Regions from separate parts of the Homo sapiens genome. Here region 2 is linked to region 1. Evidence: fine-mapped expression QTL. A gene starts in region 1. The other region holds a variant in brackets. All regions are shown on one strand. Distances are between the middles of the regions. Region 1 holds the start of MLLT1 (MLLT1 super elongation complex subunit). Region 2 holds the start of LOC105372255 (a long non-coding RNA gene).

The links.
Region 2: its variant is fine-mapped to the expression of MLLT1 in whole blood (TOPMed, PIP above 0.99).

What each region holds. Positions count from the first base shown.
Region 1 is chr19:6,277,346-6,282,715 of GRCh38, forward strand. MLLT1 (MLLT1 super elongation complex subunit) reads right to left here and starts at 2,630. Exons shown (of 12, transcript NM_005934.4): 1 at 2,428-2,630. The coding sequence starts at 2,439. RefSeq lists an enhancer at 1,718-1,797 and a silencer at 2,598-3,027.
Region 2 is chr19:6,198,371-6,203,740 of GRCh38, forward strand. LOC105372255 (a long non-coding RNA gene) reads right to left here and starts at 1,154. Exons shown (of 4, transcript NR_187772.1): 1 at 1,106-1,154. RefSeq lists enhancers at 351-954, 955-1,557 and a silencer at 1,071-1,400. The variant T/G (reference allele first, on the strand shown) is at 2,134.

The sequences.
Region 1 (5,370 bases):
ATCACCATCGACGGAACTTTCTGCGATGATGGAAATGCATCTGCATTGCCCGACAGGGTGGTCAGTAGCTCAGTAGCTCAGTAATGGTGGTTACTGAGTGCTTAAAATGTGGCTGGTGCGATGGAGGAACTGAAGTTGTCATTCGAGTTAGTTTAAATGTAAATCAGCCACAGATGCTGGTGACTGTGGTACCGGGCAGTGCAAAGCCAGCTCTCTCCCACACCTGTCCACCTGAGTGAGACCTTTATCTCCCTCTGTCGCAGACCAGGAATGCCACCCATTTCCACCATCCCACTTACATAAGTGACAGCCACCCAGACCTCCAGGGTTCCACACATCACAAGGGGAACAGACACGCTTCGGCCTAGGACATCTCCCCCAGGGACTAAGGAAGGAGGAAAGGGGCCATACCCTATGCCTCTGTGTGCCCAGCGGGACTTGCCTGGAGGTGGGCTTCATTGAAAGTGGACACTAAAGGTATATTTCATTTGGGTTTTTAACTCAATACAGATTGGAAGCAACAAGCTCTGTCCCTTCAACGGAAATCAACTCACACCACGCCGTGGAAATCCACCAATCAACTGCTGCAAACTCTTCCTTACCTCTTAAGAAGAAGGCAGCAACACCCAAACCAGATGGGAAGCCATGGGAACTGGGTGCCAGAAGCATGAGACACCTGTCTCCATGACCCTGTGCCACAGGCGCCGAGATGGGCAGGAGGGAGGATTCTTGCCCCCCACCCATGAAACCACACAGACAGTGCCACTTCAGTGGCGCCAGCAGCCAGGGACGCCCCAACCTGCCCTCTCTAACGGCGGAGATTTTGGCTGCCACCCCCACAGCCCCACAACACCTTTCCTGGCCTGGTGCCCCTGAAAGCCAGGGCAGCAGAGGAGGAGGAAGAAATGATCCCATGTTGGGGGCCAGCAATGCTTCTGGGCTTGAGGAAGAGGGGTAGGGGCTTGGGTATTGGAGAAGAGGCAGCGCAGAGTTGGGTAAAGGGGGTGCCAGGGTGCAGGAAGGCCTCGTGTTTATGAGAACCAACACAGACCAATGGGGAGGGGCCGTCCAGAGCGTTTAGGGAGGTTGGGGAACCCACCCACCCACCCTGGGTTTCAACTGAGGCTCTAAGATCCTGGGGGAAAAAAACAGAAAATGAGGTGGAAGGAGGGAGAGGGTAGTGGCTGAAAGAGACATCAGGACTCATCAGGCTGATGGGCGTTAGATGAAGTGGGAGATCCTGAAGGCAAAGGTTGTACAGGAGACTGCAGGACTGTGACGTGACCAACCAGCCTGGGAGGGAGATCTGGACTGGGGTCAAGTGTGGGGAAGCCTAAATCAGGATCCCAGGGGCGGAGAGGGCCCAAGCTGAGGGGAACAGCAGGCCATCAGTGACTCAAAGGTCTGGGGAATCCAGGTCAGAGAAGAAACTGCTCCTGGTCCTGGTCTCAGAGCAGAGGGTCTGAAGGTGAAAGAGACAGCCCCGCCGGGTCCGAGGGAGAGTGACCAGGGCCTGAAACTAGAAGGGGGCTGAGGCGGCAGGGTGGGTCAAAGAAAGAAGTCTGAAAAAGCAAGTACAAAGAGAGGGGACACTCCAAACAGGCCTGAGTCCCTGCAGCAGAAGACCGAAGGCCAGGGTCCTAGGGAGTCAGAGGAGCTCAGGCCAGGGCTGGGGTTGGGAGAGAAAGGGATGCCCTGGCTGCAGCCGGGGCAGGATCAGACGGGAGAGAAGGCTCAGGTCCAGGTAGGGGATGGGTGGAGATAAAGCTTAGGCTGGGCCGGGGTTCAAGGAAGAGAGACGCCGCAGAGCAGGGTCCCAGGGGGCCGGGGACGCCTCATATCTGAGCTGAGGTTGAAGGGAAGACAGACAGCAGGTTGGGGACTCTGGGAGTTTGAGGCGACTCGGGGACAAGGGTCCAGACAGGAAAGGAGACAGTGACTGGCCCTGGACCTAGAGACGGAAAGGTCTACTGGGCAGATCCGAGGGGCCCCGGGAGGGGTCTGAACAGGGCCCAGATCCCAGGAAGTGCCTGGAAGGAGCTCTGGGCCAGGCTGAAGTCCCGAGAGCTGTCTTGAGGTCCCTAAGCCGGGCTGGGGTCCCCAGGGGCGTCCCAGGTGGATGCAGGTCGGACTGGCGTTCCGAGGGGTCTCCCGGGGGTCTCCGAGCCAGGCTGGGGGGTCACCAGGGGCGTCCCAAGGGGCTCCGGGCCCGGCCCGGGTCCCGAAGGGTGTCCGAGGCGCCCTGGCCGGGGTCGCGGATGGGGGAGGGGCGCCCCCGCCCCACATAAAGGCCCGAGGAGCGGCGGGCGCGCACAAAGCGGGCGGGCGGGCGCGGAGCGGGGAGGCCGGGACCGGGGAGGGCCGGGCGGGCCGGCGGGCGGGAGGGGGCCGGGCGGGCTGCGCAGGGGCGGCGCGGCCGCTCCTCACCTGATTGTCCATGGCTGGCGCCCCGCCCCGCCCCCGGGCCCCGCGTCGCTCGCCGCCGCCGCCGCCGCCGCCGCCGCTCAACGCCGCCCCGCCGCCCTCATTGTCTGTCAAGCGCCGCCGCCGCCGCCGCCGCCGCCGATCCCGGCCGCCCGCTCGCCCGCCAGCCCCGCGGAACCGGAAACCACCGCCAGCCCGGGTCGCGCACCGATCACGGGCCCCCGCCGCCGACTAGGGCCCGCCGCATCGACTGACAGCCACCTGGGCCAATCGACGGCGCGGACGGCCGCTTGTGGCGCGGGACTTCCTGCCTGGCGGGGGCCTGCCGGGCTGCGGCCGGAGGGACGAAGCCCGCAGCCAATGGGAGGCCGGGACCGGAGGGGCGGGAGGAGGGAGGGAGGGAGGCGCGAGGCGAGCCTGGCGGAGGGGAGCGCGAGGTGTGCGCCGCACGTGGAGGGGGGCGGGGGCGGGACGGGCGCGCGGCGCCTGCGCGCTGCGGCCCGCAGGGGGCGCTGCCTCGTGGCTGGAGCCTCCAGGGCGGGAGCGTCCCGGGGGCTGGAACTGAGGTTACGGGTTCGAGCCCTGTGGAGGGATCCCCCAGCCCCCCCGGTAGGGACACTTTTGTTTCCTGACCTCATGATGCTGCTATGTAATGGAACGAGCCCTGGGCTCTGGAACTGGAGATTAATTTTCTTTTCTTTTTTTTTTTTATGAGACACGTCTCGCTCTGTGGCCTAGGCTAGAGTGTACTAGCACGATCTCAGCTCACTGCAACCTCCACCTCCCAGGTTCAAGAGATTCTACTGCCTCAGCCTCCCGAGTAGCTGGGATTACAGGAGCTCGCCATTATGCCCAGCTAATTTTTGTATTTTTAGTAGAGACGGGGTTTTGCCATGTTGGCCAGGCTGGTCTCGAACTCCTGACCTCAAGTGATCCGCCTGCCTCAACCTCCCAAAGTGGAGATTAATTTTCTAATCTTGCATAATCCTTGGCAAACCTGGTCAGCCCCTTCTTCACCTTTCCCTGAGTCTCAGTTTGTGCATCTGTGAAATAGGTTGAAGAACAGTACTGTGTGATTCTTCATGCTAATTTGAATGATACAAATTTGAAATCGTGCTACATTCAAATGACCCAAGAGAGTCACATGTTTTCAGTTAGACACGAAGAATAAGTTCTGGCGATCCATCACACAGCAAGGTGACTACATAATAATGTAATTTTATATTTTAAAATTGCTAAAAGCGGCCAGATGCGGTGGCTCACGCCTGTAATCCCAACACTTTGGGAGGCTGAGGGGGGCGGATCACCTGAGGTCAGAAGTTCAAGACCAGCCTGGCCAACATGGTGAAATCCCATCTCTACTAAAAAAATACAAAAATTAGCCGGGCGTGGTGGTGTGTGCCTGTAATTCTAGCTACTCAGGAGGCTGAGGCAGGAGAATCGCCTGAACCAGGGAGGCAGAGGTTGCAGTGAGATGAGATCATGCCACTGCACTCCAGCCTGAGTGACAGAGCAAGACTCTGTCTCAAAAAAGAGAAAAAAAAGAAAAAAAATGCTAAAAGTGGATTTTGAATGTTCTCACCATAAATAATTGATAAGTATATGTGGTGATGGATATGTCAATTAGCCTGATTTGTTTATTCCATAATGTATACATGTACCAAAGCATCAAGGTGTACCCCATACATATATACAGTTATTATTTGTCAATAAAGATTTTTTTTTTGAGATGAGGTCTCTGCTGGAGTGCAGTGGCACAATCGTGGCGCACTGTAACCTAGACCTCCTGGGTTCAAACAATTCTCCCACCTCAGCCTCTCAAGCAACTAGGACTGACTGCAGGCTCATGTCACCACGCCCGGCTAGTTTGGTTATTTATTTATTTATAGAAAGAGCGATCTCACTATGTTGCCCAAGCTGGTCTCCAACTCCTGGCCTCAGGCAATCCTCCTGCCATGGCCTCCCAAAGTGCTAGGACTATAGGCATGAGCCACTGCGCCCTGAACAAAGATATAATTTTTAAAGAGAGAATCTCATGTTATCCACAAAATTTTAAATAATACCCATCTCTCAAAAAACTGTTTTGATTTATTGAGGATCACAAAATTTTACAATGACCTGTAAACTGTGTTTATGTGGGAAATAGGCATAACCCCATTTTTTCAGGACTTTATAAGCCACTTGTCTCTTGGACATTAGGACTTCTGCCTGTGATTTGGGGATCCTTGTGCAGTTATTTTAATTCCTTCTTGTCATTAAAAATCGGGTTGTCATTTACAAGAAAGAAACAAACCACCCCATTAAAAAGTGGGCAAAGGACATGAACAGACACTTCTCAAAAGAAGACATACATGCGGCCAATAAGCATATGAAAAACGCTCAACATCACTGATCATTAGAGAAATGCAAATCAAAACCACAATGAGATACCATCTGACACCAGTCGGAATGGCGATTATTAAAAAGTCAAAAAACAACAGATGTTGTCAAGGTTGCAGAGAAAAAGGAGCACTTTTACACTGTTGATGGGAGTATAAATTAGTTCGACCACTGTGGAAGACAGTGTGACGATTCCTTAAAGACCTAGAGGCATGAATAATGTTCAACCCAGCAATCCCATTACTGGGTATATACCCAGAGGAATATAAATAATTTTATTATAAAGACACATGCACGCGTATGTTCACGGCAGCATTATTGACAATAGCAAAGACGTGAAATCAACCTAAATGCCCATCAGTTATAGACTGGATAAAGAAAATATGGTATATATACACCATGGAATACTATGCAGCCATAAAAAGGAATCAGATCATGTCCTTTGCAGGGACATGGATGGAGTTAGAAGCCGTCATCCTCAGCAAACTAACGCAGGAACAGAAAATCCAACACCACATGTTCTCATGTATAAGTGGGAGCTTAATGATGAGAACACATGGTAACATA
Region 2 (5,370 bases), 79 kb before region 1:
GTCCACGACAGAAAGGCACTCAACACCCAGGAAAGAAAAACAGAGTTTGGGGCTCCTTGGCTCCTGGGTGAGGGTAGTGGTGTTCCCAGAGAAGCCAGTTTGAGAGTGGGGATCTAGCGCTTCAGGGCTGGCCAAGGCCGTTCAGCCAGTGTTGGGATCCTTTAGGGTTCAATCTATCTCTTCAGAAGTTGCCTGATGGGATGCGGGCATGGAGAGCACCACCATAGGGTGCCCGGCTGGGTGTATGGGGGTTTGGGGGTGCAGGTGGTTAGCAGTTGTCAGAAGTGTCTGGTCCCGCCGGGCGTGGTGGCTCATGCCTGTAATCCCAGCACTTTGGGAGGCCGAGGTGGGTGGATCACCTGAGGTCAGGAGTTCGAGACCAGCCTGACCAACATGTTGAAACCCCGTCTCTACTAAAAATACAAAATTAGCTGGGTGTGGGGGCGCATGCCTGTAATCCCAGGTACTTGGGAGGCTGAGGCAGAAGAATCGCTTAAACCCAGGAGGCAGAGTTCGCAGTGAGCTGAGATCATGCCATTGCACTCCAGCCTGAGAAACAAGAGTGAAACTCCATCTCAAAAAAGAAAAAAAAAAAAAAAAAGAAGTGTCTGGTCCCTGGGGAGGAGACGGCGCCCGGCAGGGACAGTGGGCCTACAGCTGACCTGTCTGCTTGCTGGTGGGTTTCCTGCTGAACTCCTCTCTGGGTCAGTGCGTCTCACTGTCCACCTGTCCCTGCATCCCCTTCTGTGCCTCGCTGGTCATCTTTCTCCCTTGGCAATCCACTTCATACACCACGCCTCCTCCGTCTGCCATCTCTCAGTGCCACGCTCCTGCCTGTGCTCCCATCTCTCCCTGGTTTTGCCCCTGACACGCCACCTGCTCGCCTCTCTCTAGGTCCATCTGGGGGTCTCCGGCCGCCGCTGACCCGCCTGTCCGCAGGCTGAGCTACTCGGACCACGGAGCGCGACGGGGAGGCGCGACTGCGGCTCAGCAAGGACTAAGTTAGCAACAAGACACTCCTCACTGTGCACGACATGGTCGCGAGCACGGCCATCAAGTACGCCAACAACATCGCGCCCGGCTCCAACAGCTGCCACCTGCTCACCTACATCGAGTACCACCAGCAGTGTCTCGGCGTCGAGAAGTCTTTCTTCAAAGTACCGCCAGGCGGTCCGCGCCTGCGCGCCCCTCCCGCCCCTCCTGCGCCTGCGCGCCTCTTCTGCACCCACCCTCTTGCGCCTGCGCGCCACTTATTTCACCTCCTGCGCCAGCGCAGCGCTCCAGGGCCTTTCTTCCCCCGCCCCTCCCCGCGTCCTGCGCCTGCGCGCCTTTCTTCCCCCGGTAAGCCTGCGCGCCGCTCCGGCCCACTTGCTTCTGCGCCTGCGCGCCGCTGCAGGGCCTTCCTCCCCCATCTCCCCCCGCCTCCTACGCCTGCGCGCCACTACATCCCTTCTGCGCCTGCGCAGTGTTACTCTCCTGTGACTGCCACTTGTCTGACTCGCATGTTTGTTTTAACGGATTCCCTGAGGCTGCCTGAGAGCCAGAAATGAAAAGCTGCAGACTTAGGGGCCCTGGTTCAGATCCCAGAGCAGCCATTAGCTACGTTTTCTTGCACGAAAACTTTGTGCCTTTGTGCCTCTGTTTCCCTATATGAAAACTTTACATATAAATATATATATATATATAAAGGCCAGGCGCGGTGGCTCACGCCTTAATCCTAGCACTTTGGGTGTCCGAGGCAGGCAGATCACTTGAGGTCAGGAGTTCGAGACCAGCCTGGCCAACATGGTGAAACCCTGTCTTTACGAAAAATACAAAAATTAGCCAGGCATGGTGGTGCATGCCTGTAATCCCAGCTACTTGGGAGGCTGGAGGCAGGAGAATCACTCCAACCCGGGAGGCAGAGGCAGTGAGCCCAGATGGTGCCACTGCACTCCAGCCTGGGCAACAGCAGAGCAAGACTGTCTCAAAAAAAAAAAAAAAAAGAAAAGTCATTCCAATACCCATAGTAAACTGGATCCTCCGGTAAAAATAAAGTTAAAAAAATAAAAAAGTAAACATATAAAAATATGTATTATTATATATACATTTAAAGTATAGTTTTTATAAATGTACAGTATATAAAACGTCTGT[T/G]TATGGATAAATTTTATGCGTGCTACACTTTTATTTATTTATTTATTTATTTTTGAGACGGAGTCTTGCTCTGTTGCCCAGGCTGGAGTGCAGTGGCGCGATCTCAGCTCACTGCAAGCTCTGCCTCCCGGGTTCACGCCATTCTCCTGCCTCAGCCTCCTGAGTAGCTGGGACTACAGGCGCCCACCACCACGCCCGGCTAATTTTTTGTATTTTTGGTAGAGACAGGGTTCACCGTGTCAGCCAGGATGGTCTCGATCTCCTGACCTTGTGATCCGCCCTCCTTGGCCTCCCAAAGTGCTGGGATTACAGGTGTGAGCCACCGTGCCCGGCCCTTTTATGTTAAATTTAATATAAAATATTTTCTTTTATATCAGCATTTTTATGTAAATATATAAAATATAACAGCAGCTAGCTCACAGCTTTGCTGCATGGATTCAGTGAGTTTACACACATCGAATAGCTCTGGCACACACAAAGCATTGCACCAGCATTCACTATTTATTATTTTTATGGTTTTGTTTGTTTGAGACGGAGTCTTGCTCTGTCACTCAGGCTGGAGTGCAGTGGCCCAATCTTGGCTCACTGCAAGCTCCGCCTCCCGGGTTCACGCCATTCTCCTGCCTCAGCCTCCCCAGTAGCTGGGACTACAGGCGCCCGCCACCACACCTGGCTAATTTTTTGTATTTTTAGTAGAGACGGGGTTTCACCGTGTTAGCCAAGATGGTCTCCATCTCCTGACCTCGTGATCCACCGGCCTCGGCCTCCCAAAGTGCTGGGATTACAGGCATAAGCCACCGCGCCTGGCCTCTTTTTTGTTTTTGTTTTTGTTTTTGAGACAGTCTCTCACTGTCGCCAGGGCTGGAGTGCAGTGGTGCGATCTTGGCTCACTGCAACCTCCGCCTCCCGGGTTCAAGCAATTCTCCTGCCTCAGTCTCCTGAGTAGCTGGGGTTACAGGTGCCTGCCACCACATCCAGCTAATTTTTTGTATTTTTAGTAAAGACGGGGGTTTCACCATGTTGGCCAGGCTGGTCTCAAACTCCTGACCTCGTGATTCACCCACCTCGGCCTCCCAAAGTGCTGAGATTACAGGCATGAGCCACTGTGCCTGGCCATTATTATGGTTTTTACTGTGTCTCTTCTCCAGTGGCATTTCCTCAGCGAGGTCTTTCCTTGCTACCCTGGTTCCCCGAACCTGCCCTCTTCCCCCTCTCTGTGACAGCCCCTTTAAAAGTTGTCTGCCCAGGGCCAGGCACGGTGGCTCACGCCTGTAATCCCAGCACTTTGGGAGGTTGAGATGGGTGGATCACTTGAGGTCAGGAGTTTGAGACCAACCTGGGCAACATGGTGAAACCCTGTCTCTATTAAACATACAAAAAAAATTAGCCAGGCATGGTGGCACACCTGTAATCCCAGCTACTGGGAGGTGGAGGTTGTAGTGAGCCGAGATCATGCCACTGCACTCCAGCCTGGGCGACAGAGCAAGACTCTGTCACAAAAAAATATTCTTCCCAGTTTTCATCATCATGGCTACAAGTTACCAAGGTCATTTGTTTATTTGGTCATTTCCTTGAGGGCGAGAGGCCAGATTGCCTTGTTGTTGTACCAGCGCCAACCCTCTGATGTTTGTTGAATTAATGAACACCCATTTTTCAGATCAGGAAAGGGGATAAGAGACCTCCTGTGACTTGTTCTGTCAATGTAATAAACAAGTAAATTATGCAATAGGTAAGACAGTGTTCAGTGATTCAGAGGAATCCAAAGCACGTAAAGGAGTAAACTGTTGAGGTGGGGGCAGAATTTAAAAGTATGGCGGCTAGCCAGGTGCAGTGCCTCACACCTGTAATCCCAGCACTTTGGGAGGCAGAGGAGGGCAGATCACTTGAGGTCAGGAGTTCGAGACCAGCCTCACCAATATGGTGAAACCCCGTCTCTACTAAAAATACAAAAATTAGCTGGGTATGGTAGTGCATGCCTGTAATCCCAGCTACTTGGGAGGCTGAGGCAGAAGAATCACTTGAACCCGGGAGCCAGAGGTTGCAGTGAGCCGAGATCACGCCACTGCACTCCAGCCTGGGCAACAGAGTGAGACTCTGTCTCAAAAAAAAAAGAAAGAAAGAAAGAAAAAGGTGGCTAAGGAGAGCCTCACTGAGAGAAAGTGATATTTCAACAAAGACTTCAATGAAGAGAAAAGATCTATGGGATGGTGTTCCAGGTCAAGGGGAGTTTGTGCAAAGGCCCTGAGGCAGGACAGTGCCTGCTGTGTTGAAGGAGCAGTGAGGAGGAGGCCCCTGTGGCTGGAGCAGAGTGAGGGAGGGAGGGGGTGGGGAAGGTTGAGAAGTGCCTGGTGGGCCTTGTGGGGGACTTGGCTTTTACCCGAGGGGAGGGGGAGTGGGAGCCATGGAGGCAGAGGAGGGATATGCCCTGACTCAGGTGCTCACGGCGCTCTCTGGCTACTGTGGGGAGGACAGACTGAGGGGAAAGAGACCAGCTGAGATTGAGATGATGATAGTTTGGACCAAGATGTAGCAGGAGAGAGGGTGAGAAGCGTTCGGATTCTGAAAGCAGAGCCCACAGAATTTGTTGGTGTCTCAGCAAAACCCGCTGAGAATGACCAAAGTTTTCTGGTCAGTGCCACTTGAAGGATGGAGCTGCTGTTGTCTGAGATTATGGTAGGTTGGAGTGGAGGGAGGAGATTTAGGGATGAGGGCTGTGGGTAACATCCCTCCCCTAGCTGGGCTGTTTGGGTTTGAGATGCGTGTTAGACGAGGAAATGAGGGGTGGGCAGTTGTATCCAAGAGTCTGGAGTGGTGGGGAGGGGCTCCACCTGGATCCGATGGACTCACCTGAGTGAATGGAACCAAGAGAGTTACACCATCTTAAATTGTCAAGTCGATCCATATGTCGGCACAGATAATCACAGTGCATAGGCAAAGCTTGAGCTACCAGGGCGTTCGCCCCAACATTTTATCTAATAAAAGTGAAACCAGGCTGGGCATGGTGGCTTATACCAGCCTGGACAACATAGTGAGACCGCCATCTCTAAAAAATATGAAAATTAGCCGGGCGTGGTGGTGCATGTGTAGTCCCAACTACTCAGAAGCCTGAGGCAGGAGGATTGCTTAAGCCAAGGAGGTCGAGGCTGCCATGAGCCATGAACGCACCATTGCACTCCAGCCTTGGGTGACAGAGCAAGACCTTGTCTCTCTTTTTTTTTTTTGAGATGGAGTCACGCT